Linked DNA regions of Homo sapiens. The protein of the gene in region 1 interacts with the protein of each later gene in a pairwise test. Each region holds a gene or a part of one and is shown on either strand. Other genes may lie near its edges. The genes, in order: NAPB, KCNN3, TFEC and STX19.

Region 1 (8,052 bases):
GATCCACCTGCCTTGGCCTCCCAAAGTGCTGGGATTACAGACGTGAGCCAGCACGCCCAGCCTCATTGATCTTTTAATGAAATAAAATATCTGAAAGAGCTTTAACCATTAATGTACCATGCAAGTGTGATTTATACTTTGAAGACTGTTATTTCCAGTAATACTTGCTCCAGGAAAGCTTGCAGGAAGAAGAGTACTTAGAATTTTAGGAGTTTAGTAATATTGTATAATTACTGAAGCCAGAAAACAGACGTAGTGTTCCTGTGTCAGTAGGACAATTAAGATTCTGTATCAATTTTAGATGTTTAGAATCCTACCTTATAGATGGCATGTATCATCACCTTTCTAGACTGGAATACATGTTATTCCACCCTGCCCCTGCCTTCTTAGCTATAGAATGTCACCATTTTCATTCCTAAAGGTCTGCATGTAATCCTTTATTTAAAACGCAGAGTAATCCATCTCTATGTCAGACTCCAGAATTAATGTAATACAAAATTAATAAAACACACATACTGACTTGAATATCATCAGAGCTCATATATTTAAGAGCTGACTAGCTGGTGCTTTAAAGAGGATAAGCCATCTGTTTTCAGGTTGTGGCAGTCATTAAAAGCTGCTTGGCATATTGCAGATATTTCACATCACAGACATTCTGAATGCTCTATCTGCAGATTAAAGCCTGTCATGAGTTCTCTAGTGTTTACCACTCACAGTGGTTTTGTGGCAATACTGTATTCTTAGTAGTATTCTATAGCTTTTGTTTCTTGCTTTCAGTAAAATTAGATGAAAATATGCATATGTATTTATGAGAACATGTCAGTCAAATATTTCTTCTCTGTGTAAGGCACAAATCCTCTGCCTTATCTGCTTGATAGGTAAGGTATCAATATTCCTTTCCCATCCCCACCTTCCTCCCCAGGAAAAGAGCTGACAAGGGATGCAAACATTGCAGGAAACCACTGTTGTGGTGGTTTGTGTTTCTGCTTAATTGCCCGTTAAGCAGTAATGTGCTTTTGTAGTTGTGGAATTAAAACTTTTTCTCAAGTTTGTAGTATAGTACGTTTAGTAAAACTACTTCCAAAGGAGTTGTCTTGTCCTTTAGTTTGTTGCCAGGGATGAGCTATGGAATTTTGTAGTTAATTTCAAATTCCAGTTTATAATGTTAATGAACTACTGGTATGATTTTAAATCGGCCTGAGTCTGACATTAAGATAGTTTTGAATTGGAAAAGCCTCTTATAATACTATCCCCTCCATCTTGTTGCTATGAGACCCGGTTGGGAATAACCTGCACAATGCACATAGAAGAAAGTGCTTAAGACTGACAGTGGAGGCCAGGTGCAGTGGCTCACGCCTGTAATCCCAGCACTCTGGGAGGCCGAGGCGGGTGGATCACTTGAGGTCAGGAGTTTGAGACCAGCCTAGCCAACATGATGAAACCCCGTCTCTACTAAAAATACAAAAATTAGCCTGGCGTGGTGGCGGGCGCCTGTAATACCAGCTACTTGGTAGGCTGAGGCAGGAGAATCACTTGAACCTTGGAGGTGGAGGTTGTAGTGAGCTGAGATTGTGCCACTGCACTCCAGCCTGGGCCCCCGAGCGAGACTCCGTCTCAAAAAAAAAAAAAAAAAAGAATGCCAGTGGAAAGATGTTCTTTATGGTTAATGCTGTCTTCCTTTGCCTTTCAGTGTTTAGTCTGAGTTTACACAAGAGCTACAAATTTGGCAATGTCAATGTAAATTTAATGAAAGGCCCCATTGGGTTATCTTGAAATAATTATGAATCTATAATTTGTTGGTTGTTTGTGAAAATTGTGAATATTTCTTAAGCATTGTAGACTGTAAATTATCAGTATTCTTCACTTGTGTTTATTTCAACAAAGATTGCTTTTAAGTTTGGCCAAAATATGGTGGGGCCATGTGATAACATAGGTGAAGCATTTAGGTTTTCCTCAGTTACAATTCTTGTTCAAATGCAGATTGAACTTTTAAAAAAATTATTAGGCTCAGGTTTACTGACAGAGACAGGTGATACAGTATAAGAAATATATACGTATATTTGTGTATCTTTCTCAAAAGAAATCGATTATAAATTGAACAATTATTTTTATAAATTATATAATATACGTAAGAAATATAATTATATTATTATTCATGGGGAGACCAGGTAGAGGCTCAAGTTCTCTCATTTACTATTTTGGTGACTATAGTCAAGTAAATCATACTCAGAACTTGTTTTTTTTAGTTTTCAGATGGGCAGAGAGACAGAATCTGTTTTTCACGATTGTTAAGGATTGAATGAGGTCAGAATGCTTATTCAGTTGCACAGAGCTATATAACTTTATTATAATTGTTTGGTTTTCTGATTTTAGGTTGTTACAGCTTGGTATCAAATGATAAACTGTTACCAGACTGGCCTTTTTCTTGTTGCATTTTTGCAGTTTTCTCCACATATTCTTTCATTCTTGTGAGCTCTGTGAGGTGCAGTTACTCTGGAGAGAGGGAGGGCCAGTAATCATATGTGGCTCCTTGGAAGTCTGCCTGTTTTGTTGCTGTGGCTAACACCTCACCCAGCCTGAGGCATGCGTTAGGCACGTGGTAAATATTGGTGGAGAGAATGAATGTATTAATGCTAATACAAATGCTGATGTTTTTTCTTTTATTCTTACCTAGTTTTCAAGAGCAAAGCTATACCAAGTAAAGGAGAGTTTAAGTCGCTTTCTTCCGTTTTATTTATGTATTTATTTTTTTGAGACGAGCTCTCACTCTGTTGCCTAGGCTGGAAGGCAGTGGCGAGATATCTGCTCACTTCAACCTTGACCTCCTGAGCTCAAGAGATCCTCCCACCTCAGCCTCCCAAGTAGCTAGGACTACAGGCATGCACTACCATGCCTGACTAATTTTGTATTTTTTGTAGAGACAGGGTCTTGCTATGTTGCCCAGGCTTGTCTCCAACTCCGGGACTCAAGCGATCTGCTCTGCTGACCTCAGCCTCCCAAAGTGCTGCGATTACAGGTGTTAGCCACTGTACTAGGCATTTTATTTAAATATTTGCTTATTATGAACATTGTAGCTGTACACGGTAGAAAAGTACAAGGAGTACAGAGAGTTTTCTTTTTTTTTGAAATGGAGTCTTGCTCTGTTGCCCAGGCTGGAGTGCAGTGGCATGATCTTGGCTCACTGCAACCTCTGCCTCCTGGGTTCAAGTGATTCTGCTGCCTCAGTCTCCTGAGTAGCTTGGATTACAGATGGGTGCCACCACACCCAGCTAATTTTTGTATTTTTAGTAGAGACAGGGTTTCACCATGTTGGCCAGGCTGGTCTTGAACTTCTGACCTCATGATCCGTCCACCTCGGCCTCCCAAAGTGCTGGAATTACAGGCATGAGCCACCGTGCCCAGCGCAGAGAGTTTTCAGTTGAAAAGTAAAGTTCTCTGAGTCTTCTTTTTACGTAATCTCACTCCCAAGAAGCAACCATTTTTAACTTTCTCATTAGTTTTTCTGATGGTTACCACCATATTTCTAAATAATTTTAGAGCACTTCTACTTCCTGATATCTTGATTTTCAGACAGTATCTGTTGATTTTGCTAAAAATGATGAAAAATTTATTATAACTTACATGGTCTTACATTTTCCCCTTTACCTCCTCATTTTACTTAGTTATGTCTCAATCTCTATTACCTTTTATATATAAACAGCATATTTAAATCTTAATTCATGTATGAATTAATGCTGAATAATTAAGCTAATCAAAATATTATACTTAAAATTTTTTTAATATATTTTTCTATTTTTGTGAGTTATGGAGTCAAAGAGAATATATTGTCCAAATTGTGATATTTTTGAGATACTAATAAAATGGGTACAAGTCAAGCATATCTATGCAATGAGGACACAGAATCACCCTAGTTACAGACTTCATATACTCTTCTTAGATTTTCACATTGTGTTTATCTGATTGGTTATAAAATCAGTAAAGCTTTTGTACCTTCAAAGAATTTTCAGTGACTAATAAAGTTCACAGTAAGGAAACTTGGAAGTAGAGTTTCAGAATGTTAACTATTTCTGTATTTAAGTGGAACTTATAAGTAATAACAAAATCTAATAAGTCAATACTTCCTTGAATTAAGGTATATTTTTTCATGGTGAGGACTTGTCTGTCAATTCCAGTTTTAGTCCGTGTATTCATTAGGGATTAGTGTTGTATTTTGAAGGCCTTTTTGAATATCTGCGGAGATAAACATTTTTCTCCTTAAGAGTTATTATATGTTAATTAGTAAATATGAGGCCTCGTATTGTACTGTCCTCGCACTCCTGGAGTAAACCTCTCAGGATTATAATATATTTTTAAATGTAGATTCCATTTTTATTTTTATTTATTTGTTTATTTTTTTGCGACAGGGTCTCACTTTGTTGACCAGGCTGGAGTGCAGTGATGTGCTCATTACTCACTGCAACCTCCGCCTCCCAGGCTTAAGTGATCCTCCCACCTCAGCCTCCTCAGCAGCTGGGATTACAGGCACAGGCCACCATGCCCAGCTAATTTTTGTATTTTTATTAGATATGGGGTTTCACCATATTGGCTAGGCTGGTTTCAAACTCCTGGGCTCAAATGATCTGCCTGGTTGGTCTCCCACAGGGCTGGGATTACAGGCATGAGCCACTGTGCCTGGCCTAGATTCTGTTTTTACATACATGATTTAGGATTGTTTTATCTACAATTCATTTGTATATAGCTTTACTTTATCAGCTTGAAGTATTGCTGTTACAGGTGCCTCCTAAAAATAATGTGGATGTTTTTCTTTTTTTTTTTTTGGACTCTGGTCTTTGAAGATTTAAGAATATACCACAGTGAAACCATTGGGGCTTTTGATGGGTATTTCTTTGATAACTTTCTTGTTTTTGTCTCTGGAGTTTGTAATGTTTAAATTTTCTATCTCTACTGAGGTCAATTTTGGTAAATTGTGTTTTCCTAGGAAATAATTCATTTTATCTAAGTTTTAAAAAATGTATTTGCATTGTGCATAGTAGTCTTTTCTGACTTTTAAAAATGTTCTGTTTTAGTAATTTTCTTCTGTCACTTTATTTTTGTGTTTGTGTTTTTCCCCTTTTTTCCTTGATTCTTTTTCTCTAAACAACCAATATTTTGATTGATTTGTTCTACTGGTTTTGTGTTTTCTGTCTTACTGACTTATACTTTTATCTTTATTGCTTTCTTTGGCTTCTTTTGTTTTTCCCTCTGGTTCATTTTTCTAGGGAGGTGTTTATTCACTGTTTTCATTGCTTTATTTGTATGGATTAAAATATTCATGGCTATACATTTTTTTCTTAAAACTGCTTCAGTTGTATTTTATAGATCCTGTTACATAATGTTTTTATCTTAGTTTGTTTCCCCTTTGTTGCAAGAGGCTTTTATTGTAAGGGTTTTATTCCAGGTAGAAAGAATGGCCTTTCTTTGTATATTATTACTTAAACTTTTTTTTTTTCATTATGATCAGAGAACTTACTGAGATTTTCGTTGCCACTTAATATATTGTTGGTGTTCATGAATGGTCCAGGTACACTTTACTTAAAATTTTTTTTTCGACACGGAATCTTGCTGTGTTTCCCAGGATGGTCTCGAACTCCTGGCCTAAGCAATCCTCCTGCTTTGGCCTCCCAAAGAGTGCTGGGATCATAGGCATGAGCCACCTGCACCCAGCACCCATGTACACTTTATTTTTTTGGAGACAGAGTCTCACGCTGTTGCCCAGGCTGGAGTACAGTGGTGCGGCTCACTGCAACCTCCACCTCCCAGGTTCAAGCGATTCTCCTGCCTCAGCCTCCCCAGTAGCTAGGAATACAGGCACACGCCACCACACCTGGCTAATTTTTGTATATTTAGTAGAGACACGGTTTCACCGTGTTGGCCAGGCTGGTCTCAAACTCCTGACCTCAAACGATCCAATTGCCTTGGCCTCCCAAAGTGCTGGGATTGTAATCTCCCATGTATACTTTAGAAGGTGGATATTTTCTTATCAAATTTTGATAGAGATCCCTCTTGTCTAGTTATTGATTATATTGTCTCTGTCTTTCATGTCTGTATTTTCTGTTCACTTGATCTGTTTTGGGGGGCATATTAATATCTGCTTTCTTATAAGTGTATTTCTATCTTTTTTAACGTTTGCAATTTCTGCTTTATAAAGGGGGCTACTGTGTTTTTGGTACATAGATTTTCACAACTAATATTATTATGAATTATATTTTTAGCATTATGAAGTGAACTTCTTTATTTCATTTAAAGCCTTTGAGCCCAAATTCTACTTTGTTTCATTGCAGGGTAGCAATCTCTGTTTTCTTACTGCTTGTGTTTGCATTCCTTAGGACTGTATTATGTAAGAGGATCATACATGCTGTCTGTTACCTTGTGCCCTCTGCTGCCAGTTGTGGCCATGTGACTGACTTTGACTGATGAAGTATGAGTGGAAGGCACTTCTGCCATGGCTTTTACCCTTCTGTAAGAAATTAAGAAGAGTATATATACCGGATAAGTGCTACATTCCAGAGTAGAGAATGATGACACTTGGAGAAAGAGGCAGCAGTCACAGCCAGTCTGCAGTAAACAAGTCAAGTGACTGAGAGAAGCCTTTGGGAGATGTCAGGGTTATTTGCTGTTATGACAGTTCTAATGAGAGCTGCTTGATTTGTTTGGTATACTTTTGACCATCTCTTTATTTTAAGCCTTTCGGAATAGGTATTTTAGTTGTGTTTCTTGTACTGAGCACAAAGTTGGGTTTTGTTTTTTGAGCAGATCTGAAAATGACGAGTATATGATTGGTTCTTAACTGTCATACTACTATATTTACTGTATATTATATTTTCATTGCTATTTGTCTTCATGTCTCTTTTTTTATTTAGGAAGGTTTGTAATTTTGTTCTACTGGTTACCTTTATGCTATAAATGTTTTTAAATATCCTTAGCTCCTTTTCCTTACTTAGGCGCCTATTATTTTGTTCACTCCAGAAAACTCCTGTTACCTATGTGCTTCTCAGTGAGCACGTTCTACATCTCTTGTTCTCTAATATCCCTTTTTTTTTAAGCTGTTTGTACTTTGTCAGACATAGAAGTGTTTCCCTATTATTTTTCTACCCTTGTCCTTACATTTTGTCTTAGATCTACAATACAACATATGCAGTGACACCACCAGTCATTTCAGCTATGTTTCCTAGTCATCTCTTAGTTATCCCTTGGGTCCTGGCTTACACTGGGGGTTGCATGCTGGATGGCCTGGTTGTATAATCCTTGGCTCACACTTTTTTCCCCCTTGAGTTTCTGGTAAAGCATTGTTCCACTGTTGTTTTGCTCCGTATATTGCTGTTGAAGTCTTAGCCTGATTTTCTTAGTTTTATAAGTAACTTTGAGTTTTTATGTGGAAGCCCAGAAATGTTCTTCATTTATAAAATCTAGTCATCTTACTAGGATATGTTTCACAGTAGACTATTCTGGGTCAGTTTTCCAAGTACATGTAGGCCTGTTCAGTATTTCGATTCATGCCTTTTGTTTCCAGAAAATTTTCTCAGATTGTGAAAATGGGTTTTTTCTTCCCCTCTTTAGGGACTCTCATTACATGGATATTGGCTCTTTGCCCATCCTGTATTACTTTTACTTAGATCCTTTTCTCTTCATTTTTGTTCTCTTGGCTGTTTTCATAGTTTTCCTTATTGTCAGTAGAATCTGCTTTCCCCTTAGGTATGCTATAACAGAGATTTTATTTCTGAGATCATTTTGTCTTTTTATTTCTATCCTTCTAGAATTTGAAACAAGAGTTCATCATCTTATTTTTTTGTGTATTTCCATGATGAGTTTTTAAATTTCTAGCTTATGATGTACTTTCATATCTGTTTAATAATATTTCAGTCATATGGAATTGTTTTCCTGTGCCTTGTGATTGTTTTAGGGAACGTATTTTAATTCTTGTTTCTTTTTTGTTTTGGGGCTTTTTTGGTATGGCTCATTTTTATTTTAATATTTGTTCCTTTTTTACAACTTTTATTTTAGAGTCAGGGGGTA
Region 2 (8,064 bases), on another chromosome or scaffold:
ATAAATCTTTTTTTTTTTTTGTGATGGAGTCTTGCTCTGTTGCCTAGGCTGGAGTGCAGTGGTATGGTCTTGGCTCATTGCAACCTCCGCCTCCTGGGTTCAAGCAATTCTCCTGCCTCAGCCTCCTGAGTAGCTGGGATTACAGGCGCTCGCCACCACGCCCAGCTAATTTTTGTATGTTTTTTTTTAGTAGAGACGGGGTTTCACCATGTTGGCCAGGCTGGTCTTGAACTCTTGACCTTGTGATCGGCCTCCCAAAGTGCTGGGATTACAGGCGTGAGCCACCAGGTCCGACCAATAAATCTTTAATGAGTAATTCATAGCCAGGCACCGTGATCAGTGTTGGGGATACTGAAAAAATTTAGAGCCCTTTTATGCAGGTCACAGCCTGTGGGAAAGACAGCCATATAAACCATGAACCACTACTTTTCTTAAACCTATTTTCAGTTAGTTCTACCTTTTGGGGATAACAAGGTCTACAGACAATAGATTATGGAATTTTAAAGCTGAGTGATCTTAGAAATCATCTTTTTTATCTCACTATTTTACGGATGAGGAAATTGTGTTTATGATTTGTTGTGAAAAGTACTGTGACTTTCCCTTACTTGCCTTCAAATGACCTCATCCAGGTTTCAAGTTTAGTCAGTTCGATTAATCTTTACTAAGCATCTATTGTAAGCGGCTCTTCGGAAGAGCTGCAGTACAGCTGTGAAGAAGACATCATCCCTGCCCTCAAGGAGGTCATGGTCTATGGGCAAAGGACACATATGGAGATAACAGCTGTGTTGCTCCGTAGAGGCCCTGTTAGCACAGGGCACTGAAAATACAGAAGGAGCTCCTGATTTGGGTTTGGGGAGTTCAGGGGAAGCTTCTCAGAAAGAAGACCTTTGAGCCATGTCTTGAAAGGCAAAGAGAAATGTGTTAGATGGAAATCTGGGGGAAGGGCATGCCAGGCAGAGGGCATGGAGATGTGAAATAGCATGACTTACGGGAGAGCTACAATAGGTCGGTGATGCTGGGGCTTAAGGAGGAAGGTGGTGAGGAATGAGCCTGGAAAGGAGGGCAGAAACCGAGTGCCAGTACACTTGATGTGGAGCCAGTATGGCCAAAGGCCACCCCTACTTTCCTTGTCTGCTCTTCCTGTCTCTCTGAGGTAAGAAGCTCCTCCACACCCCCGTTTGCAGACTAAAGAGGCCTAATTTGTCAGCCTGTCATCTTAGGGCAGCATAAGGAGTTGCTCCCCATTCCTTAAGGTGTGGCTTAAGTCCCACCACCTCCAGGAAGCCACCCTTGACAACCCTCTGCCTTCAATGAACTCTACTGTCTCGCCCACACTTTGGGATCTGCATTGCTGTTTTTTGTCACCCCATGTAAGTATAACTTGTCTCTACAGTGAGACTTTAAGTTCCTGAGGGTTGGGTGTGTGAGTCACATGGTAATGTTTAATAAACACCAGTAAGAATGAATCCTTTAAATTTGGGTTTCAGGACATATGGCGAGGGTTTGTCAAAAGGTTGGACAGGCCTGGGTTTGATTCCAGCTTTATGGCTAGTTACTAATTAGTAACTCTGGGCAAGTTTTAAAATCTTTTTAATGCCTCAGTTTTTTCATCTATAAAATGGGTGATGGCCTCAACTCACAGGCTGCTGTGAAGACATGGTTGTGGCTGGGGGCCAAGGGAAGCATTGGGGGCTTTTCAACAGTGGGGCTTTGGACAGGCAGCAACAGCGGGAAGACGCCTGAGTGCGGTGCATCTGGAGGGCAACGTGGAAAACCTGACATGATCAGGCCCTGTGGTTGAGAGCTCCCAGCTGATTCACTAACCTGTCGGTGCTTGACAGTTACAAAGTACTTGGCCGGTGCTCTCATTGGACTAAGGAAATTGAAGGCCTGAGAACATAAGCAACTGGTCACAAAGTGGGCGAGTGGCAAAGCTTGTGCTGGTGAGAAGGAAGGCAGAGGGTGGAGCGCACAGCCTGTATGTAATGATATAGGAGGCAGTAATATGCTGATAAATGTTGAACAGCCAGGAAAGATTTAGCAAGCGGCTTCCAGGAAAACATAAGCTCTAATTTACAGTGTTAGCCGATTTCTGTGGTGTAAATACTCTGATCATGGCTGATTTCAAGCTGCTAATGTGACATCACTGTGGAGTTAGGAAGAGATGTGTATGGATGATCAGAAGGTCATCTTGCCTGTGGTCACACAGCCATCCCTGCAGCAGAGAACGGTTCCAGCCTGGGCAGTCTGACACTTGAGCCCAAGCTCTAAACATGACATTGTCCTCCTCCTCCTGTTCATGACAGGATAGCTGTAACAAGGGGCATGAGCTGGCTCCGTGGCATCAGCTGTCAAGTTCCAGCCCATTTCCAGATAACCACTGATCTTTGGTGCTGGCATAGTTAGGGCTCTACCCAAGCTATCTTTCATCCTTATCCATGATGGCAGGACGTGCTCTGATAGGCCCCATTTGGATCCCATTGGCACAGCCAGAAGAACTGGAGGCAAGAGGCTGGCCAGAAAGGTTAGCTGAGGCAGAAGGCAGCTCATGGGGGTAGAGTGAGCATAGGAATACCCAGGCCTGGAGCCTGTTCTCCAAAATTGATTTTTCACAGCCCAGAAAACTGTATCCAACACTAAAAAACCAACACGAACAGCACATTTTTGCTACTAACAACATATTCATGATAATTTATTAGAGGATCATTAAACCTAAGTATGCGATCTGGAGCCTTGAACCAAGCAGGTGGCTCTGTCTGCGGATGGAGGAGAGGGAGGGAAATCAAGAATACAGAAGGGAAGGGCAGGGAAGGCAGAGGATGCTGAAGGGGTTGGGGGTGGGTTCTAGAGGGCTTGGTCATGGGAAAACACATGAGACCCCAGGCTTGCATCTGAGGCCTGGTACTGTGACTTCTAGTGTGTGTGTGTGTGTGTGTGTGTGTGTGTGTGTGTGTGTGTGTGTGTGTGTTGGCAGGGGTAGGGGAAATGATTATGTCATTGATATCAAGATTATTATTTTATATATATATATATTTAGAGACAGGGTAACACTCTGTCGCCCAGGTTGAAGTGCAGTGGCGCTATCACAGCTCACTGCAGCCTCAAACTCTTGGGCTCAAGCAGTCCTCCTCCCTCAGCCTCCTGGGTAGCTGGACTACAGGCACTCGCCACCATGTCCAGCTAATTTAAAAAATTTTGTAGAGTCTGGGTCTTGCTATGTTGTCCAGGCTGGTCTCGAACTCCTGACTTCAATCAACCCTCCTGCCTTGGGCTCCCAAAGTGCTGGGATTATAGGCATGAGCCACCATGCCTGGCCAGAATCAAGATTATTGTGCAAGAGTAATTGTCACGTATCTGGGGTCGTGGCTTGTATTACAAGTAATATTTAGCTCTCAATCATCAGGGTTAATGGGGGATTGGAGAGGTGAGAACTGATATACAGAGGGGACTCTGGGCTCATTTTGGGGGGGCTCTGTCCCTCCCTGATCTGGACACTTGCTGCTTACCAGTCAGGAATGCTGTTTTAGGAGCTTCCTATGTGTATATGTGTGCATGTGTGCATGCATGGGCTAGTGTGTGCACACAACCATGTACACATGTGCACATATGTCCACCTGCTTACATGTTTTCTGGATGTGTGTCTGTGTATGTGTGCATGGATCTCCTACCCTTTCCTCTTCCCATCGAGGGAGGGAGCTGGACAGAGGCCAAAGGGTGATGGGGAATCAAGAGCCAGAGAGGAAGAGGCCTGCCTTTTAAAACCCCAGGTGTTCTGGGGAATTCCCTCATGGTGACTTCCTTTCTGATTCCTAAGGCTGCTGTGGTTAGAAATGAAAATGAATTCAGCTCTGGTCCCATCCTTTGGAACCCCCTCTGCACACAGTGGGGGCTTAATAAATACTTGATGATGATGGTTCTGAACCTGGGAAGCCAGCAGCTGTTCCTAGTTCTGACTCTCAGAGCCCCATGGGGCAAATCAGGCAGGGAATGACCATGGGGGAATCTTCAGTCTTCCTGCCAGATCCCCCTGTGACTACACACCCAGCTGTTAGGGAAGGGGCTGGAGCCATGGTCCACTTCACACACCCTGCTTTGGAGAGGCCAGTTCTTCCTCAGCAGCTTCTCTTTTGTTTTCCCCAACTAACATTTGAACAATATTTATTGAACAACCACTTTGTACTGAATATCATAGTGGAAATGCATCCTGGGAGAAAGTATCTGATCTGTGGGGTCAGACTGACTAAGTTCAAATCCCAGCATCTTTAATTACAAGCGGGATGACATCTGACAAGTTACATATCTATGTTTGAGCGTTTGAGTGTTTTTTCCACTTTCCTTTCTCTCCTTCTTCTCCTTCTCCTTCTTCTTCTTCTTCTTCCAATTTTCATCTGTAAAAGGAGAGTGATGACATCATTTTTGTGGGGTTGATGTGAGGGTTGGAAATAACAGAGAGGACCCTGAACACGAGGCGTAGGCACTCAGTCAATGGTAGGTGAGTTTATCCACCGGGTGTTAGAAGGTGTGGATCCCCCCTGCTTCTGTGACCTTGACGTTGTTACTCAACACCTCTAAGCATCAGGCTTTGTAAATGAGACCATACTGCCCACCTCCTTGGGTGTTTGGAGACTGTATCCGGATAATATATGTGAAACAACCTATCGTAAACCCTGGTGGTTAATAAATGTTTGCCTTCCCCTCCGTCTGCCCCCTCATCAGGGTGCACACCTCCCCTCCTTCGGAGGCCCTCTGTCCCTCCTCCCCATCGCCCAGCGTGAGCGAACATCCCTTATCGCCGTGGGCTTAAGGGTTGTGGCCATACCTGTCAGAGGAAAGAGGACAGCGGCTCAGCTCCGGGGTGGGGGAGCAAAAACTACAGTTCCCAGTCCTCGCTGCGCCGCCACTGGGGCCGGAGCCCAGGACGCCAGGCCCCTCCTCTGGGGAGGAGCCTATGCGGGGGGCGGAGCTAGGAGGAGGTTGGAGAGTTAAGCCAAGCCAATGAGACCAGCTGCTAATAAGTGGGCTTGGCTTACAATGTAACAGTGGCAGGAGGAGGCGAGCGAAGCTATTGAGCCAGCGAGGAGTGAAGCTGAGCCTGGCCTCACACGCTCCTAGAGGACCACCTCCTGAGAGAGTTCTTTCACCCCCTCTTCTTTCTCCAAGCTCCCCTCCTGCTCTCCCTCCCTGCCCAATACAATGCATTCTTGAGTGGCAGCGTCTGGACTCCAGGCAGCCCCAGAGAACCGAAGCAAGCCAAAGAGAGGACTGGAGCCAAGATACTGGTGGGGGAGATTGGATGCCTGGCTTTCTTTGAGGACATCTTTGGAGCGAGGGTGGCTTTGGGGTGGGGGCTTGTGCTGCAGGGAATACAGCCAGGCCCCAAGATGGACACTTCTGGGCACTTCCATGACTCGGGGGTGGGGGACTTGGATGAAGACCCCAAGTGCCCCTGTCCATCCTCTGGGGATGAGCAGCAGCAGCAGCAGCAGCAGCAACAGCAGCAGCAGCCACCACCGCCAGCGCCACCAGCAGCCCCCCAGCAGCCCCTGGGACCCTCGCTGCAGCCTCAGCCTCCGCAGCTTCAGCAGCAGCAGCAGCAGCAGCAGCAGCAGCAGCAGCAGCAGCCACCGCATCCCCTGTCTCAGCTCGCCCAACTCCAGAGCCAGCCCGTCCACCCTGGCCTGCTGCACTCCTCTCCCACCGCTTTCAGGGCCCCCCCTTCGTCCAACTCCACCGCCATCCTCCACCCTTCCTCCAGGCAAGGCAGCCAGCTCAATCTCAATGACCACTTGCTTGGCCACTCTCCAAGTTCCACAGCTACAAGTGGGCCTGGCGGAGGCAGCCGGCACCGACAGGCCAGCCCCCTGGTGCACCGGCGGGACAGCAACCCCTTCACGGAGATCGCCATGAGCTCCTGCAAGTATAGCGGTGGGGTCATGAAGCCCCTCAGCCGCCTCAGCGCCTCCCGGAGGAACCTCATCGAGGCCGAGACTGAGGGCCAACCCCTCCAGCTTTTCAGCCCTAGCAACCCCCCGGAGATCGTCATCTCCTCCCGGGAGGACAACCATGCCCACCAGACCCTGCTCCATCACCCTAATGCCACCCACAACCACCAGCATGCCGGCACCACCGCCAGCAGCACCACCTTCCCCAAAGCCAACAAGCGGAAAAACCAAAACATTGGCTATAAGCTGGGACACAGGAGGGCCCTGTTTGAAAAGAGAAAGCGACTGAGTGACTATGCTCTGATTTTTGGGATGTTTGGAATTGTTGTTATGGTGATAGAGACCGAGCTCTCTTGGGGTTTGTACTCAAAGGTAGGGGCTGTGGTTTCTCTTTATACCTTGAACAAAAGGAATATGTAGGTAGCAAGAGAGGGATTGAGAGAGGGGGATTGTGAGAGAGAGAGATTGAGAGAGAGAGAGAGAGAGAGAGAGAGAGAGAGAGATTGAGAGATTGGGAGGGAGACTGGGAGAGAGAGGTGGTGGTGGTGGTGAGAGGCGCTTGCTCAGTTATATTCAACACTCTAACTTCCCGTGGTTTTCCTTCTTGATCCCGGGAGAATTCATTCCTAGCTTCCTCTGGGGGGTAGGGGACATCCCCACACACTGTGTCTAATTTGCAGACTCTCTGTTAGGGAGGATTCAATAATCCCTTCTGAGAAATCGCTTTTCCTCCTGGCTCACTCGTACTAAAGCATAACCCAGCAGCTTAACGCACCAATTAATTACACTCCGCCTTCATGTGTTTGCCAGTTCCTGCGACTTCCCCTTCTTTCCTCCCCTCCCTGCTCCACTCCATTTTCCTGAGGATAAAAAAGAAATAAATGTCTGGGTGGGGGGTGGGGATTCCGTACCATTGCCCAAGTCCCTTCTCTCCCTGTCTTCTCCATCTCTTCCCAAGTTTCTGTTTCCCTCCTCTTCTCAGAGAGTCTCGGGCAAAATAGAAAACCATCCATGACCTGGGTCTCCTGAGGGCATGGGGTAAAAATATAGGTGGAGGAAATCAGTGGTCCTTTCCCTCAGGAGAGAGGACTCAGAATAAACCTGCTGCTGCTTCGTAAACATCTCCTGATAAAAATGGCTACAGGTGTTACCTGGGCAGAGCAGCTGGGCGCCGCCTTGGAATCAGCTGGGGGAGCACCTCTCCTTGGGACGGGATGACAGGGCTTCCCAGGCGGTCCCCACAAGCCCGCGCCCCAGCTCAGCCCCAGTTCTCCCCTCCCACCTCAACTCCTCCTTGGGATAAATAAAGATGAGTGTGTGTGTGAGTGCGCGCCCGGATGGAGAACAGCAGGCACTGGCTTTAGCGGGGAGCTGGCCCCACTGCTCCAGCCTCTCAGTCCAGCCCCAAGACGGAGGAGGGGGTTTCCCTCCCAGAGGGAGTGGAGATGGAGGAAGGTGGGTTTCTGCCGATGCTCTGCTTGCCGGGGAGCTCTCCTGCTGTGGGCTGGAAGGCTTGGAGACCTGGGAATCGGTGGACAAGTGGCTCCACGATACCCCCACCCCCAATTTGTTGGTGTGTGTGTGTGTATGTGCGTAATGTTTGTACGTATGCATGCGCCTGCTTGTTGCTTGGGTTTTTCTATTTATTTGTCATTTGGGGCAGGGGGTGGCTTGGTGGGGGGGTGGCTGGGCGGGCTGGCCATCGGGTAGCTGGGAGGGGTTCAGCTGTTGGAGGTTTCAAATAGAGCTTGTTTCAGGCAGGGCACAGCTGCTGCGAGACTGTCACATTCCTTATTGAAATCCAGCCGCAAAAACCTAGGAGGTGCTGATCGGATTTCCCCCATTCCCAGCATCTCACTTTAATCGGTGATGGGCAGACTTTCCCGCCCTGGAAACGGGTGGGGCAGACCTGTCAGACGACCTGAATAGCCAGGACCAAGACTTCCAGGCAGAGGGTCCTCCAGCAACCCGGCTGCTCTCTCAGTGGGCTGCCCCAGCGGAGGGCAGCACCTGGAAGCCGCCTTAGTCAAAATAGCTCAAGGATGAGCGTCTCAGCGAGCAGAAGCGAGTGGGGTTTCCCTTGGAAGCGCAGCTCACTTAGTCATTCCCTGTAATGAGCCTC
Region 3 (8,523 bases), on another chromosome or scaffold:
CTTTGCAACATTTGAAGAGAATAAAAATGTTAACATTAATGCTTATAAAAGAAATATGTGTAAAGTGTCCTCAGTTCATACACATACACACAAGAGCCCTTAATTCTGTATCTTTCAAGGAAAGTACAGACAGGAGGTCACGTATGATCTGGACTTTGAAGAGAGGAGCGTCCTGCAGGGGGACATTGTAACCTAAAGAAAGTGAGAATGTATTATGGTAAAGCTTGAGATTCAGACTCAGATTTAGTTGAGAAGACATTTATGAGTGATCCTAGAGAATTTGGAGTCAAAATTTAGGCAGTAGGGAATTTTTTTATGATTATAAATAAAGGGAATAAAATTTAGAAAAATCACACATTTAATCATTTAGTGATTAGTGCTTAGGATATGTCCATCAGCAAGGAGATGGGGATCCTGGTCTTCGTGAAGCTGTCTTTCCAATGAATGATTGAAATTAAACAGAAAACCTGGTAGGTCATGGGGTCTATGGAAAAAAGGACAAGCAGAGTAGGGTAAGGAGAATAAACAGTTTCAGTGGGGGAAGATGGGGGAGACAAGAGAATGGTGGAATTTCAGACAAGTCAGGAAAAACTTCATTCAGAAGTTGATATTCCACAAAGAGTTAAAGGAGGTGTGTAGGCCTAGGACCTTAGACACCATTTTAAGGAATTGGAATGACTTAAGTTCTTCCTCTGAGTATGAGGAATGCTTTGACAAAGTTTTGAATAGAAAAGCTACATGATCAGCTTTGAGTTTTAAGAGAACCACTCTGGTTGCTGTGTGTGTGTGTGTGTGTGTGTGTGTATGCATGCCTGTGCGTGTTAGTGTGTGTGTAACAGATAGAAGGAGGGAGAGCAGGTGTAAGGTCTTTGCGGCAATCCAGGTGAGAGATGAGGTTAGCTTTGACTCAGATAATAGCAATGGAAGTTGGATGAGGCAGATAAATTCCAGGTGGGTTTGAAGGTGAGCTCACAGGAGTTACTGATGGACACGTTGAAGGGTATAGAGAAAGAGAGGAGTGAGCTGGAGGGATGAAGATGGTGTTAATCTAGTTGGGGAAGGCTGCAAGTGGTGCATGGTTGGAAGAGAAGATTTTGGTTGTCTGTAACACAGGAAAATGCAAACATAGAGTAGGTTGTTGGATATATGAGTATGGAATTCAAGAGAGATATCAGGCCTGGAAGTATGACCATGAGAGTCATTAGCATATAGATGATATAAAGTCATGAAAGTACATGATATAGCCAAGGTAATGAATATAGCTAGGGTAGGGGAAAGAACAGGCTGAGACTTAGGACATTTCACTATAGAGAAGAGAGGAAACAGCAAAGGAGACTGAGAAGAAATACTCAGTGATATAGGTGAAAATTTGAGTCTGTAGTGTCCTGAAAACCCATAAAAAGGGCATTAAAGGCAAAGAGAATGATCACGCATTCACTGCTGATAGGGAAAGTAAGTTGGAAGTGAGAACTGACCATTTGATTGGCAAGACAGAGGTCATTGCTAGTCCTGACAAGGTCAGTTATGGTGCTCTGGTGGAGCACAAAGCCTTACTGGAAGGAGCTTAAGAAAGAATGGGAAAAGAGGAATTGAAGACAGTGAGTATTGATAGCTCTTTTGAGTTTTTCAAAAAGGGCACAAAGAAATGGAGTAACATCTGGTGGGAGAAGTAGGGTTCAGAGAAGATTATTTGTTTTCCTTTAGGTGGGAGAAAGAACACTTGCTTGTATTCTAAAAGGAATGATCTGGTTGAGTCAATGTTTGGCACTGTAGATTACAGGTGAGAGGAGGGCATTGCTAGGTGGTGGTCTTGGGTAGTGGGAGGGATGGGATCTGGTATAAATGGAGAGAGCTATTCTCTGCATAAGATGACATATAATTCATCTATGATAACAAATGGGAGTATTTGGGTACTGGTACAGGGAGTGGATAGACATGGAGGATGGAGAATGGCAGGAATAAAGAAATTGACAGAGGCAACTGAAAAAAGGAAGAAAATGGGTAAAACTCACATGGCATTTATTACATGCCTGGCATTATTTAAACAATTTACTTCTATTATTTATTTAATCCTCATACTAGCCCTGCTCTAGGTACTATTAGTTTCTCTGTTTTACAGTTGAGGAGACTGAGGCAAAGAGAAGTGAAGTATTTTAACCAAGGTGCCATAGCTAGAAAGAGGTAGAGCTGGGAGTTGAGACCAAATCAGTCTGACTCTTAACCAAATTCCTGCAGCCAAGCACTTTGACACATTTCTTCTTTGTGAGAAGAATTTCAGGCATAGAATGGCCAGAACTTGACCATTTAAATGCGAGGAGTGAGGATACATCCTCAGAAACAAAGATTTTTTTTTTTTTTGATGAATCATGAGAAGATGTCTTGCCCTTTTCTTTGTCACGTGATTAATTAACTGAAATGCATCTTGCAGGGAGTCTGTAAACATCAATCAGGTAAAGACAGAAGGTAAGATTTAAATTATATCAGTTATTTATAAGATCTCCCTCATTCTTGTCATAAGGGAGCAGATAATTTGTGGTAAAATTATTTTGTGGCAAGTAGTATACTATACTAAAAGTTTGGTTTATAAACTATTTTTGAAATGAAAACTATATTTTATTAGAAACGACATGCATGATTTTTAAAAATTTTTAACTATTATTTTAAGTTCAGTGATACATGTGCAGGTTTGTTACATAGGTAAACTTGTGTCATGGGGGTTTGCTGTACAGATTATTTTGTCACCCAGATATTAAGCCTAGTGCCCATTAATTATTTTTCCTGATCCTCTCACTCCTCCAGCCTTCCACCCTCTGATAGGCCCCAGTGTGTGTTGTTCCCCTCTATGTGTCCTTGTGTTCTCATCATTTAGCTCCCACTTATAAGAGAGAAGATGCAATATTTGGTTTTCTGTTCCTGCATTAATTTCCTAAGGATAATGGCCTCCAGCTCCATCCATGTTCCTGCAAAGGACATGATCTCATTCTTTTTTATGACTGTATAGTATTCTGTGATGTATATGTACCACATTTTCTTTATCCAGTCTACCATTGATGGGCATTTAGGTTGATTCCATGTCTTTCCTCCGTGAATAGTGCTGCAGTGAACATACGTGTGCATGTGTCTTTATAATAGATTGATTTATATTCCTTTGGGCATATACCTAGTAATGGGATTGCCAGGTTGAATGGTATTTCTGGTTTTAGATAGAGGAATTGCCACACTTTATATAAAATATAGAAGCAATAGATAAAAATGTAAAAAAAGTAACTACCCGATTATGCCACCATTAAGAAATAACTGATATTAACAAATAGATGCTTATTCTTTCAGGTGTGAATATGTATCTATGTGCATGTTTCCAACTTTTGAAGCCCACATAGTAATACAGCTTTAAAATTTACCTTCTGAAGCTCGCAAATGTATTTCATACAAATACATTAAATATGTTAAACATGTTGTATCATACAAATGTATTAAACTCTAATTCAATCTAAAGTATTTTCTAATGAGTTAAAATCCCAAATATTTTCTTTTCTCACAATGTTTCTAATATCAATGTTGTTTATTTCTAATACTAACCTAAATAAATTGATTTTACACTTAATTATTTACTATTTCCATTCACCTTAGGAGATTTAGATGTATGATAAAACAACCAGAAAAGGTAAGGTGACTCAAAAATGTGCTATTGATAGTGACAGAACAATTTTTTTACTTAATAGCTTTGAAGTTCTTACAGAAGATATAGTGCTGAAATATTTTCATATAATCTCCACTTCTTGACAAACACAAATGTCAATTTAATTGCACAATTTTTAGATCACAAAGGCAAGAGAAATCTGAATGTAACCTTCACATTAAACTTCAGTAGCTTGCATAAATGCCTTGCTTTGCATATATTTTTTAAAATATAGGTAAGACAAGAAAGTCATGTAACTGTTACAAGAATGAATTCAGATTTTCACAGTGTGAATTACAGGGTGGGAACAAAGTTGTACCTTTCCATTTTAAGTTCCTGAGATACCTAACACATGAAATGAGACCTCTTTTATCACATTGGTAAAGGCATGAGTATCCTATATTCATGTCCCTTAAAAATACAAATGAAATTGGGATGTAAATAATAATTATAAGACAAAGAAATCTCATAAGCTGAACTGTGTATTTTTAATCTACATGGGAAGATAAAATATTCTTGGACAAGATAAAAATTATCCTGGGGTCACTTTAGGAGTAAAATCATATGTAAGAAAAATGTAATTATAGAAAATATGGAAAATGCAATGGCCTTAAAAACTCAAAATCTATTAATGCTCTAAAGAAATGTGCAATTCCTAAAATTGAAAAAAAAATGATGCAGGTCAATTTGTTGAAGAAATGTTCATTGTGAAACATAACATGTTGCAATAAATGTAGGATCTCAGTCCATTATGATAACAACCATGTACTGCTTGTGTATATTCTGGTAAGAATTGTTAATTATGGAGCCACAATGGGACCAACAAGAGCTTTTACTGTGGCCACAGTATTGTGGAGTAGTTTTCTAGGAGTGCTCTTTCTCAAATTAGTGGCATATTTCAGATAAAGAAAGGAAGTCGTCTTAACTTGAAACTGCTGTGTCATTTCTTCTTCCTTAACTGAAATTCCAACCAGGGTTCAGGAAATGCCCTAATGAGCCACTTCTCTTTTCTCTTTCCTCAACTAACTGGATTCCAACCAGCCCAAAGTATTCATTACTCACGGCTAGATCGTTTACTTTGGTTGTCCCTTCTGGCATGGTGCATATGTTATGGGAAGAGGGATTATAATTTGGTGCTGTTTGTAGAGATGACAACACTGATAAAATCCACTCATTGCTGGTAGGTAACTAAACCGGCAGGTTAATTTTCTGTACTTTAAACAAACTAGGAAGACAAACTAATCAATACTTGTTTTATTTTGATATGTGTGGCTTGCTTATAATTATAATTTCATCTTTTATGATAACTAGGTATCAGGATATCTGAGTAGTCAAGTTGTGATTTGCTATTATTTGGGGAAAATATGTCTGAAACTCTATTAATGTCTTATTTCAACCAAGATGTGGAAATCACTGTTTTAGTTCATGGTAACCAAAGTTATTTATTTTTCAAGTTTAATATTTTCAGATATTTACTAAATTGGAACATGATTTAACATTTTGTTGCCTCTTATATATGTTATTTTATGAGTAAATATTAATTTTTGTTTACATTTGAGCAATATCTATTTTATTGGCTTTAAAGGTAAGAAAATATGAGCTCTATTTATAGCAAAATAGTACCAGATAGTATATTAGCATATATTCTTATTCCAGGACTAAAAATTAATTCCTATTTTTATGTAGATGTGGATCTAAATAGCTTGTGTAGAAGATGTCAAGTATCCCAATGCAACAACCTTTTTTTGAGATGGAGTCTCACCCTGTCACCCAGGCTGGAGTGCAATGGCGTGATCTCTGCTCACTGCAACGTCTGCCTCCCGGGTTGAAGTGATTCTCCTGCCTCAGCCTTCCAAGTAGCTGGGATTACAGGCATGCGCCACCACACCTGGCTAATTTTTTTTTTTTGTATCTTTAGTAGAGACGCAGTTTCACCATGTTGGCCAGGCTTGTCTTGAACTCCTGACCTCATGATCTGCCTGCCTTGGCCTCCCAGCAATTACTTTTTTAAAGTAATAGTTTTCAATTGTAATAATCAAAAGAGTTGTAGTAGAAACTTTAAGATTAAGATACATATGAAGATATTTATACACATGTACATACATATATATATGCTGTATATATACATTTGCTTATATAAATTACAATAGATATAATTTCATATATATTTATATAAGTTATAACTCCATACTTTCAATATTGTCTTAGAATATTTCACTGGGAATATGCATTTTAAGGGAAGGAGAAACCTGAGGTAATTTCAAATTCATTTTGGATAGTTTATAAGAAACTTCATTTAACTATAAGAGTGTAAAATAACCTTCATGATTCTTTCGTATTCAGAAAGTGTGTCAGCACAGCAAAGTGAAATGGTACGCAGTTTATTATCAGCATTATTCGGACAATTCTGCTTCACTTCTATTTTAGATGAATCTGAGTGTAGCAGTGCACTTGCAAGTATCTTTTAAATTTATGTTAAATATTTTACTTTTGGATGGAAGCTACTTTAAGTAGGCTAAACTTTAAGATCTCCTTTTAAGAAGTTTTTTTAAACTTTTTTTTTTAGCTCTAAAACAAATGGAATACATATAATTTTCATGTCTATTTCCTTGGTTTGGGTTATTATTACTTTTTTTTTAAGTTTTCAATTTTATTCCAAAACAGTAGAATAGTTCAATGTAGTACATTTTGTTGAACTGAAACTTGGAGCTCATGTCAAAAATGAAACAAGCTGAAAAATGTTTCTTAAAAGTCAGTTTAATTTTAACGACTGCGGCATAAGGTTTGTTGTAAGTTCTAGATAGCCCAAAATAATTACAAGACATTTAAATAAGGTACAAATTTGTAGCATAGTGAAATTTTCAGAAATACTACTAACTTATATAGTGGAAGTAAAAATAGTTTTGAAAACAGTGGTTTGAATAGTCAGAAAGGAGAAATAAGGAAAGAAGAAACTGAAAGAAACAAAATATTCTTACACAATGGTTTTAGATAAACTAGTGAAATATAACTCAAATGGAATCATTATGGCTGTTGATATTTTCCATAATAGTGGAAAAGCAATCACTTAATCTTTTATAAATCGTTTTACAAATAAAGCTATCAGATGTCAATTAGACATTCCAGATTCTTCATGGAGATGAAAGCTCTTACAGTAAAAAATACTGGATTATGATATGGAGTGATAGCAGATCCAGAAAGGTGGTGTTTACAAATAGGTTGCTATTTTGAACTATTTGTCAACAAAATAAAACACATGCATAGTGCAAAGCATGGTTCCTGCACAGATTTTACTGGGGGTGTTTACTAAGAAGAGTCTGGGAGGCATAGAGCAGTAGGAATGACAATCATCCCCAAAGTCATAACCTACGAAGAGAGAGGTTAACAGTAGTCTTGTAGGAAAAGAAAAACAGCAAGAAACTAATTTACGCAAATATTCCTTATTATATAGAATTGTGAATGCCAGCTAATTAGAGAAATCTGTAGAATTGTGTTGTGGGTGTTTGGAGATTTATAAAAATTTGGTGGACAATACTTTGCCTATGAGAGCTTAGCTGATGATAGATGGTTTTGTGATTCCATTAAATTGTATTTATTGGAGCATAAAAAGTCTTGGCCATTTACACACCAATAAATAAAGAAGAACAGGAGAATATTAGAGGTAGTTTATGTTAAATGTTAGGAGAATTGGGAGAATTCGTATAATTGAAAAAGTGAAATAGTAAGATAGAGATGTAGAATCTCCTCAGGTGACCAGGTTTAAGAATGAATTGGTCAAGGCGAGAAAGCCCTTGTTCCCAGTTTTTCAGTTGCTCTCAGGAAATAGAGGGAAGTTGAGCCTAATGATCTTAAAGACCCGTTAGGTTTCTGTTTCTCTTTTCTCTTTTCAGGTTTGAAAGAATAGGTGAGAATTTGAAAATCGATCTAAAAAAAGGAATTGAAAGGAGAGTCTAGGACGTAGAGGTGGAGTTTTAATAAGGATTCTCATGCCTCCTAATGTTCATTCCTAAGAGTTACCATGGAAGAGTATTTTCAAATTGTCTCTCTTCTTGAAACATGCTTTCTCAGTTTGCCACTGAGCCAGAGACTTCTTTTATACCTCCCTTTATTCCCTTCTTTATTCTTTCTTGCACAAACATGTTTCCAATGCTCAGCTTCCTTAGATGTATTTCCACCCAAGTAAGAATGTGAGCCTGCACATTTAAAAAATTTTTTTGAGACAGGGTCTCACTCTGTCACCCAGGCTTCAGTGTAGTGGCTTGATCAGGACCCACTGCAGCCTCGACCTCCCGGGCTCAAAAGAGCCTCCCGCCTCAACCCCCCAGAGTAGCTGGTACTACAGGCATGCACCATAATATCCAGCTAATTTCTTTTTATTTTTTTGTATTTTTTTGTAGAGATGGGGGGTCTCGCCATGTTGCCCAGGCTGGTCTCAAACCCCTGGACTCAAGTGGTTGCCTCAGCCTCTCAAAATGCTGGGATTACAGGCATGAGCAACCACACCCTGCCAAGCCTAGACTTCCTATCTGTTCAATCAAATATTTGGCTATATCTTGTTTTCCACTTGCAGCACTCATTCTATGCGGCATCTTTCCTCACGCTCCCAAAATCTAGACCAGTACCTACCGTATTATTGACAATCTGTCTATAGACAGGTATTTATCCCTGCCAATGTCTGCAGAGAACTTCTCAGGGGCTAATATGTTAACACTCTGTTCCCTTTGACCCTGTGTAGACTCAAATGGATTTGAACCTACTGAACTATCTGAGGTCTGCAATAGAAAGTTTGTCAGCAACATTTTCACCCCCAGCCTTTAAATTCTGGTAAAATTCTAGGCTTCTTC
Region 4 (8,052 bases), on another chromosome or scaffold:
TTCTATAAAGATAAGCAACTGTGACTTTCAGTCAAAATGCACAGATACAGAAGTTACTCCCTCTTTCTCTAAACATACAGAATTTGATGTAATCGTAAGTTTAAAAAAGACAAATTTTAAAACAACATCACTAAATTTTAGAGTAAAAAAGCGAAGTTTTCTCCTGGCTCACACGGTGAAACCCCATCTCTACTAAAAATATAAAAAGTTAGTCGGGTGTGGTGGCGGGCGCCTGTAGTCCCAGCTACTCTGGAGGCTGAGGCAGGAGAATGGCGTGAACCCGGAAGGCGGAGCTTGCAGTGAGCCGAGATGGTGCCACTGCACTCCAGCCTGGGCGACAGAGAGAGACTCCGTCTCAAAAAAAAAAAAAAAAGAGAAGTTTTCAGGTGCCAGAAATGATGAGGAAACATACTTAAAGCCAAAGTGAAGAGTAGTAATTAAAGCTAATTACACTGGGCAAATACTTTACCTTAAAGCTGAGGTTTAGAGTTTGTTGCATTATAGGGAACTAAAACTGAGTTTCCTAGATGAAACAGTTAACTAGGAATAATACAACATAATCTGTATACAAAGACAGGAATAACTCTGTTGACTTGCCCAGGATTATAGCAGGAAGTGAGATATCCACTTAGGCTATAAAAATCACTAGAGAAAAATTAGGCCTACATAATACTACCTGGGCTACAAGGGGCAAACTCCATGGGGCGTTGGTAGTGACAATCAAAAAAATAGCCTCAATGTATCCATAATTGATCAGGACACTCAGAGCATTCTTGTATAACTCCCCAATGAAGCTAGGCTACTGACGAATTTCACTAAATACACTTGCCCACATTTAACAGAGTGGTCACCAGTCCGTGGCCACAGCAAACATAGGAATTTACTCCTAAGAAACTAGAAATAACCTAATAATGTAAAGGATCTTTCACATAAATATTCTCTAAATGTTCAAAAGAAATACAGGCATAGGATCCATAAACCAAGACAAACACAGTATAACCTTTATAGCTCACTTTAAACATCGTTTACATAATACGCATTGCCATGATGTATAACACTGAAAGGAAACCTGATTCTATTTCCATGTTTTGCCTTTAATATCAATAATGTATACAGATATTAAAAAAAGGATATTTTGTTTTTTGCTTGTAAATTCATTAAGATTAATAAAAAGGACATATTAATATATTTTAAAGGGCTCCTTAAAGTACCTTTTATTCAAATATAAAAGTGTGGTGCATGTTCAGGGAATGATATTACATGGATAAAAATCCAGGAAAAAAACAACCTTTATAGAGGTCAGACTCAAATATCCTGCTTTCCAAAATCAGTGGCAGTAAAATGCACCTTCTCAAAGGCACTTCACAGGAAAATTCACCTTCCCAGAGGCCTGTGTACACTGTGCTCCAATAGCAATTTGAAATAGTCTATTTCTTAAAAATTTTTAAACTATGATGCTTTAGAAAAAGGCTTTTGATTACTTTATTTCTAATTTTTTTAAAAAAGAGGCTGGGTGCACTAGCTCATGCCTATAATCCCAGCACTTTGGGAGGCGGAGGTGGGAAGATTGCTTGAGCCCAGGAGTTAGAGATCAGCCTGAGCAACACAGCAAGACCTCATCTTTACAAAAAATTTTAAAAAATCAGCCAAGCACAGTGGCATGCAACTGTAGTCCCAGCTACTCGGGAGGCTGAGGGAGAAGGATCACTTGAGCCTGGGAGGTAGAGGCTGCAGTGAGCCGCAATTGAGCCACTATACTCTAGCCTGGGTGATAGAGTGAGATCCTATCTCAAAAATAAAACAAAACAACACGCCCAAAAAAGGACAAAGATCTTTCCAGTCATAAAAACATTAGAGGGAGTTGTTTCAGGATTTGTTCCAAACCATGCAACCAAAGAGAAAGTTCAAGATGTTGTAGTTCTTGAGGAATGTGAAAATTAAAGATTGTTAAAAGCTACTGAACCATTGTATAAATATAGGACTTAATTTTTATGGATAGAAAATCAAAATCTGTTTTGTTTGATGCCACTTTCTCTTTCTCTCGCCTCTGAGCTTCTAACATTGTTACTCTTTCTTTTTCCCTATATTTACACGGGTGCAACCCAGTTTAAAAAATAATAATGTGGCAACTAGCACTTCAGCTATATATGCTGTATTTTTAAGAATTCATAGTCAAGGTGGAAGGATCCCTTGAGGCTAGGAGTTCAAGACCAGCCTGGACAAAAGAGCGAGATCCTTTCTCTATTAATTGATTAATTAATTAATTTTTAAAAAACAATTCATAGTGACAAGCTAGTACAAGAGAAGGAAACAGAAATTTGGTTAGATGACTATGAGTTGAAGCAGAAGAAAATATAAGAATATCAATCTCCATATAGTACCAAATATAAAATGCAATATTTCTTAGACTTTCTGTAAACATCAGTCTGTGAGATCCAAATTATTTTTCTTCTTTTATAGTGTAAAGTGATCAATTTGGTCTGATTATATTAAAGATCCTAATAAAGCTTCAAACAACAACATTATTTTAGATCCTATATGCTATATTATCTCCTGCTAAATTTTTTCTTTTAAATAGATATAGTATGTATATTAGTAACATAATACAGTATTTGATATAGATAAACATTATTTGTGTATATTTCACTAGGATAACCAATTTCTACTCAATAGACAATAGGGGAAAAAGAACAGATTTGCAATCAAGTAGATATGTCTAAACGTAGGATCTGCCACCTTTTAGTTGTGTGGCCTTAGGCAAGTCACTTTAAAATTCCCCTTATTTGGACGTTGCTTTTCTTGGACTGGACTGTTTCTTTAATTTTCTTAATGTCTGAAAGGCCATGAAAATAATACAAAGAAAATGGAGAAAATAAAGTTCTTAAAGAAATTATTTAAAAAAAAAGCAAGACCGTAAATACATGAGTTTCTAGGTTGAAAAGACCAACTATATGTTTACCAAATAAATGCATCAAGACCTACCCCAGATCACATTGTTGTGAAATTTCAGAACACCAGGAATATGAAAAAAAGGTCAAGAATTTCATGAAAGGAAATATAAAAACAGATCTACAAAATATCAGAAAACACAGGGCAGAATATTCAGAGGTAACAAAACTAGAAGATGTAGTAACAAAACTTTCAAAATTTTGAGGGAATATAATTTCCAACTGAAACTTATATCCACAGAAAATATAGTATTCAAGTATAGGACAGAATAAAAATATTTTCAGTAATGAAAATTATCATTGCATTTATGTTTTGAAAAGGAGCTATGGTACACTCCCAAATCAAGGAGATAAACCAAGAAAGGTGAGGAATTGGAAATCAAAAATAGAGAATATAAAAGAGGAAGAAAATTCTAACACAATCAGGTTACATTAGAGTTTCCAGGAAAGGAGCCTCAAAAGATGAATAAAATGAAATAAAAATATATATATTCTATATTTAAATATGTCAAGAGGATATGTTCAATTCACTTCAGTTTTAGAATGAATTAGTGATGTATGTACAAAATTAAGCAGGTGAAAAACTTTGGTAATTAATATTTTCTTAAAATTAAATGTTATATGTTTCTTGATCTATGTGGTAGTTACATGGATGTATTTACTTTGTGAAAAATCACCATAATATACATTTATGTTCTGGGGGACTTTCTGTATATATAAATATGTCAATAAGAAGTTTTCTTAAATATATTCATTTTCTATCTCTATCCATTGAAAAAACTTAGAAATAATTTAAAAAATTATTTGAGAAAGGAAATACAGCTACAGTACCTTAGGTGACTCACATATAAATAATATTTGGGTAGTCACAATAATGTAAACACAAAATATTGATTAACCAAAATTTGTGATATAACTGTATTAAAAGGGGGAAGGTGAGGGAAGAATGGGGGTGTGAGAGAAGATTAAATCCACATCTTCCATAGAAGAAATTCAATAAAATAACTAAAACCAAAAAAGCAGCCGGGTGCGGTGGCTCACACCTGTAATCCCAGCACTTTGGGAGGCTGAGGCGGGTGGATCACTTGAGGTTAGGAGTTCAAGACCAGCCTGGCCAACATGGTAAAACCCCATCTCTATTAAAAATACAAAAATTAGCTGTGCGTGGTGGCAGGCGCCTGTAATTCCAGCTACTCAGGAGGCTGAGGCAAGGAGAAATCACTTGAACCAGGGAGGAGGAGGTTGCAGTGAACTGAGATCACACCATTGCACTCCAGCCTGGGTGACAACAGCGAAACTCTGTCTCAAAAAAAATAAAATAAAATAAAACTGAAGAAGCAAAAATACCTACACATGCAAATTACCTAGAAACAGGAGTTTAGATGCAACATATAGCTAAGGAGCTGAAAATGACTGCCTTTATGACTGTCTTTAAGGAATGGAGAATTGGAAAGGGGATGTGGTACGGCAGGTAAGGGTCAGATATATATCTTTAGAAGCCTTGACATGACTTGACTTGTTAACCTGTGTACATGCATTATTAATTTGAGGGAAAAAATAACATTTTTAAAAAGCTTATTTAAAAAGCTTATGGCTATATTAAATGCGACATGGTATCTTCAACACTTTGGGGAATAATTTATTTTCAGCATCAATATAGTAATACTAGAAAGAGCTTATAGATTAGGGAGTCATAAATACCACTAAACCACAAAATGAACACTAGGAAGCTATACAAGATAAATTACTAAGCCAACCTACTTTAACATCAAATTTTCTCTATACTGAAAAGAAGACTAGTTCTTATCAGATGTATATAATAAAACATGGGTGATAATTCTGCTTTCACAAAGTTGCCACATGGTAAAAAGTTTCCACATTACTTCCCAATAGTTTTACATGTCTTTAAGTATCTATACCTGGATAAGCATCAAATATTTTATACAATATTTGGCCAGGCATGGTGGTTTGTACCTGTAATCCCAGCACTTTGGGAGGCTGAGGCGGGCAGATCACTTGAGGTCAGGAGTTCAAGATGAGCCTGGCCAACATGGTGAAACCTTGTCTCTACCAGAAATACAAAAATTATCTGGGCATGGTGATGGGCACCTGTAGTCTCAGGAACTCGGGAGGCTGACGCAGGAGAATCGCTTCGAACCCAGGAGGTGGAGATTGCAGTGAGCTGAGATCATGACACTGCACTCCAGCCTGGGTAACAGAGCGAGACCCTGTCTCAAAAAAAAAATTATATATATATATATATAATAATATTAAACACGAAAGACAAAAACAACTTTTTAACACCTAAAACTGGCAATTCTTTCTATAGTATCGTCTAATATTCCTCCTGACTAATCTTCCTTTCATAATTGTTCCAGGTTTAGTATCATTCATAGCTCATTTTTTTCCTTGGATCTTATAGAAACACTAGCTTTGGTTAGCTCTACTCTGAAGGTAGAGAAACTGTTCCTTGCCAGTAAAGTAGAATATAGACAATAAAAATATGCAGAGGAAGAGGCGTATGGAATCTCCTTCCAGCTTAGAAGTCCCCTATTTACATAAATTGTACTGACTGAACTTTTTTACCTTTACTATAGCAAATCAGTGGCAAAAACAAAAGATTACCGGCTATTTGAATTAAGTATTTAAAATAGGTGAAATAAATAGTAGAATGCTTTAAGTGCATTTCAGCAACAAAAACTTGCTCTTAAATGTTTCCCACCGGTACTTAAAATGCTCAGCAATATAGTCATGTGGCAATAAAGTAATACAGCAAATGTTTCCGAATAAACTTTTAATATCTATAAAACACCTTTTCCTGACACAAACAGATTTCAAGGTCTTATCCCTTGTGATCTGGCTCTTTTCCCAACCACTTAACTGACCTAATTGCCTCTTTTCAGAACTCACCCTAAATGATCTAACACCACTGAAAAACCTTCATAGCATAGTAAAGCTATGCTATGTCATAGTGAAGTTACTATGCTCTAGTATGCTATACTGTCGTATAAAGAGTTGAGTCCTTCAAACTATACTGCCAGAATCTGAATCTCAACTCTACCACTAGCTGACAACATGGTTCAATTACTAAAGCTGAGATCGTAATTTCATTATCTATAGAATAGAGATCATGACAATACTTGTTCTTATAAGAACATAAAACACACTTAGTGCCTGGCACATATTAAGAGCTCAAGTAAATCTAAGATATCAAGATCTCAACATAAGAACTCAAGTAAATATAAGACTCATCAAGGTGCTGGGAAAGAATAAAGACCCTCTACTTTCTCCTCTAAGTATTAACTCTATGAGGTACCAGAATGAATAAAAACCCTTGATCTCATGGAGTTAATACTGGGAGGAGAAAGTAGACAATTAAGTTAATATAAATAAGTAAAATACATGGTATGTTAAATAGTGAAAAATGCTAAGAAAAATAAAGCTGGGAAGGGTCAGAGAGTTGAAAGAAGGTATAGTTCAAAATAGGGTGACAAAGAACATCCTAACTCAGGAGTGACATTTCAGTAAGGACTGGGTTGGGGAAAAACGTCACATACTACATGGGAAAGAACACTTCAAATAGAAGAGAAGGCAAGTGCCAAGGCCCTAAAGCCAGATGGTGCCAGATTTGTGTGAGAACAGCAAGGACAGTGAGACTGAAGCAGAGAAAGGGAGAGTTGTAGGAGGTGAGGTCGGAGGGGTAACAGAAGGGGTGAAGTCATTGTGGAGCTTTGTAGGCTCTAGTTTTTCCTCTAAGAGATAATGCCAAAGGAGGATTTTAGGCACAGGAATGACATGGTCTGACCTACATTTTAACTCTGAATTCTGTGTTAAGAAAAGACCAGAGGTTTTGTGGTGGGGGCAGGATGGGGGGTAGTTGGTGCAAAAAGGAAACAAGGAGAACACTTAGGAGACTATCGTTAACAATCAAGATGAAAAATAACAGGGACTTGACCAGTTGCGGTGGCTCATGCCTGTAATCCCAGCACTTTGGGAAGCCAAGATGGGCGGATCATGAGGTCAAGAGTTCAAGACCAACCTGACCAATATGGTGAAACCCTATCTCTACTGAAAATACAAAAATTAGCCAGGCATGGTGGCATGTGCCTGTAGTCCCAGCTACTCGGGAGGCTGAGGCAGAAGAATCGATTGAACCTGGGAGATGGAGGGTGCAGTGAGCCAAGATTGTGCCACTGCACTCCAGCCTAGGCAACAGAGGGAGACTCTGTCTCAAAAATAAAAAATTAACAAAAATAACAGGGACTTGAACCAGGGAGATGGTAAGAGGTGGCTAGATCCAAATACATTTTGAAAGAGATGTTGACAAGATTTGCTGTGCTTGCATATGAAATGTAGAAAAAAAAAGTCAAGAATGACTTCCAGCCAGGCGCGGTGGCTCACAGCTGTAATCCCAGCACTTTGGGAGGCCGAAGAGGGCGGATCGCCTGAGATCAGGAGTTTGCGACCAGCCTGGCCAACATGGTGAAACCCTGTCGTTAATAAAAATACAAAAATTAGCTGGGCGTGGTGGCACATGCCTGTAGTCCCAGCCACTCGGGAGGCTGAGGCAGGAGAATTGCTTGAACCCGGACGGCGGAGGTTGCAGTGAGCCGAGACCACACCACTGCACTCCGGCCTAGGGGACAGAGTGAGACTCGGTCTCAAAAAACAAACAAAAAAAGACTTCTGAGTCTCTGGTCTGAGCAACTGGAAAAATAGAGTTGCCAGAAGAGAGATGGGGCAGTTTACGGGTTCACAGGAAGATTATGAGCTCATTTTGGATAGAGGCATTCAAATGCAGCTGTCAGGTAGGCAGTTTTTTAAGAGCAACCTAAACTGGAGATACAAATTTGGGTCATCAGCTTACAAACAGCATTTAATGCCATGAGACTAAAAAATGATGATGGATAAAAATGAGACTCAGTCTAAAATCTTCCAATATTTACAGGTGGGGGAGATAAGGAGTAGCCAGGAAAAAGAAAATAGTGATAAAGGAAGAGCCAAAAAGGTAAGAGAAAAAAAACAGGAGAAATACTTTTCTTCAAAGTGTCTCAAGAAATGATTGTGTTAAGTGCTGATGGGTTAAAATCATCAAGTCCTATTG

Evidence for each region.
Region 2: the proteins of NAPB (region 1) and KCNN3 interact in binary tests that used the Homo sapiens proteins (3 or more experiments, as listed by UniProt).
Region 3: the proteins of NAPB (region 1) and TFEC interact in binary tests that used the Homo sapiens proteins (3 or more experiments, as listed by UniProt).
Region 4: the proteins of NAPB (region 1) and STX19 interact in binary tests that used the Homo sapiens proteins (3 or more experiments, as listed by UniProt).

What each region holds. Positions count from the first base shown.
Region 1 is NC_000020.11:23,410,666-23,418,717, reverse strand, and holds part of NAPB (beta-soluble NSF attachment protein), read left to right. Parts: intron 1-8,052. UniProt on the Homo sapiens protein: Required for vesicular transport between the endoplasmic reticulum and the Golgi apparatus.
Region 2 is NC_000001.11:154,867,282-154,875,345, reverse strand, and holds the start of KCNN3 (small conductance calcium-activated potassium channel protein 3), read left to right. Parts: upstream 1-5,064; 5' UTR 5,065-5,381; coding exon 5,382-6,314; intron 6,315-7,275; exon of another isoform or gene 7,276-7,397; intron 7,398-8,064. UniProt on the Homo sapiens protein: Small conductance calcium-activated potassium channel that mediates the voltage-independent transmembrane transfer of potassium across the cell membrane through a constitutive interaction with calmodulin which binds the intracellular calcium allowing its opening.
Region 3 is NC_000007.14:116,026,969-116,035,491, reverse strand, and holds the start of TFEC (transcription factor EC), read left to right. Parts: upstream 1-4,728; 5' UTR 4,729-4,859; intron 4,860-8,523. UniProt on the Homo sapiens protein: Transcriptional regulator that acts as a repressor or an activator. Acts as a transcriptional repressor on minimal promoter containing element F (that includes an E-box sequence). Binds to element F in an E-box sequence-specific manner.
Region 4 is NC_000003.12:94,018,343-94,026,394, reverse strand, and holds part of STX19 (syntaxin-19), read left to right. Parts: intron 1-7,896; exon of another isoform or gene 7,897-7,956; intron 7,957-8,052. UniProt on the Homo sapiens protein: Plays a role in endosomal trafficking of the epidermal growth factor receptor (EGFR).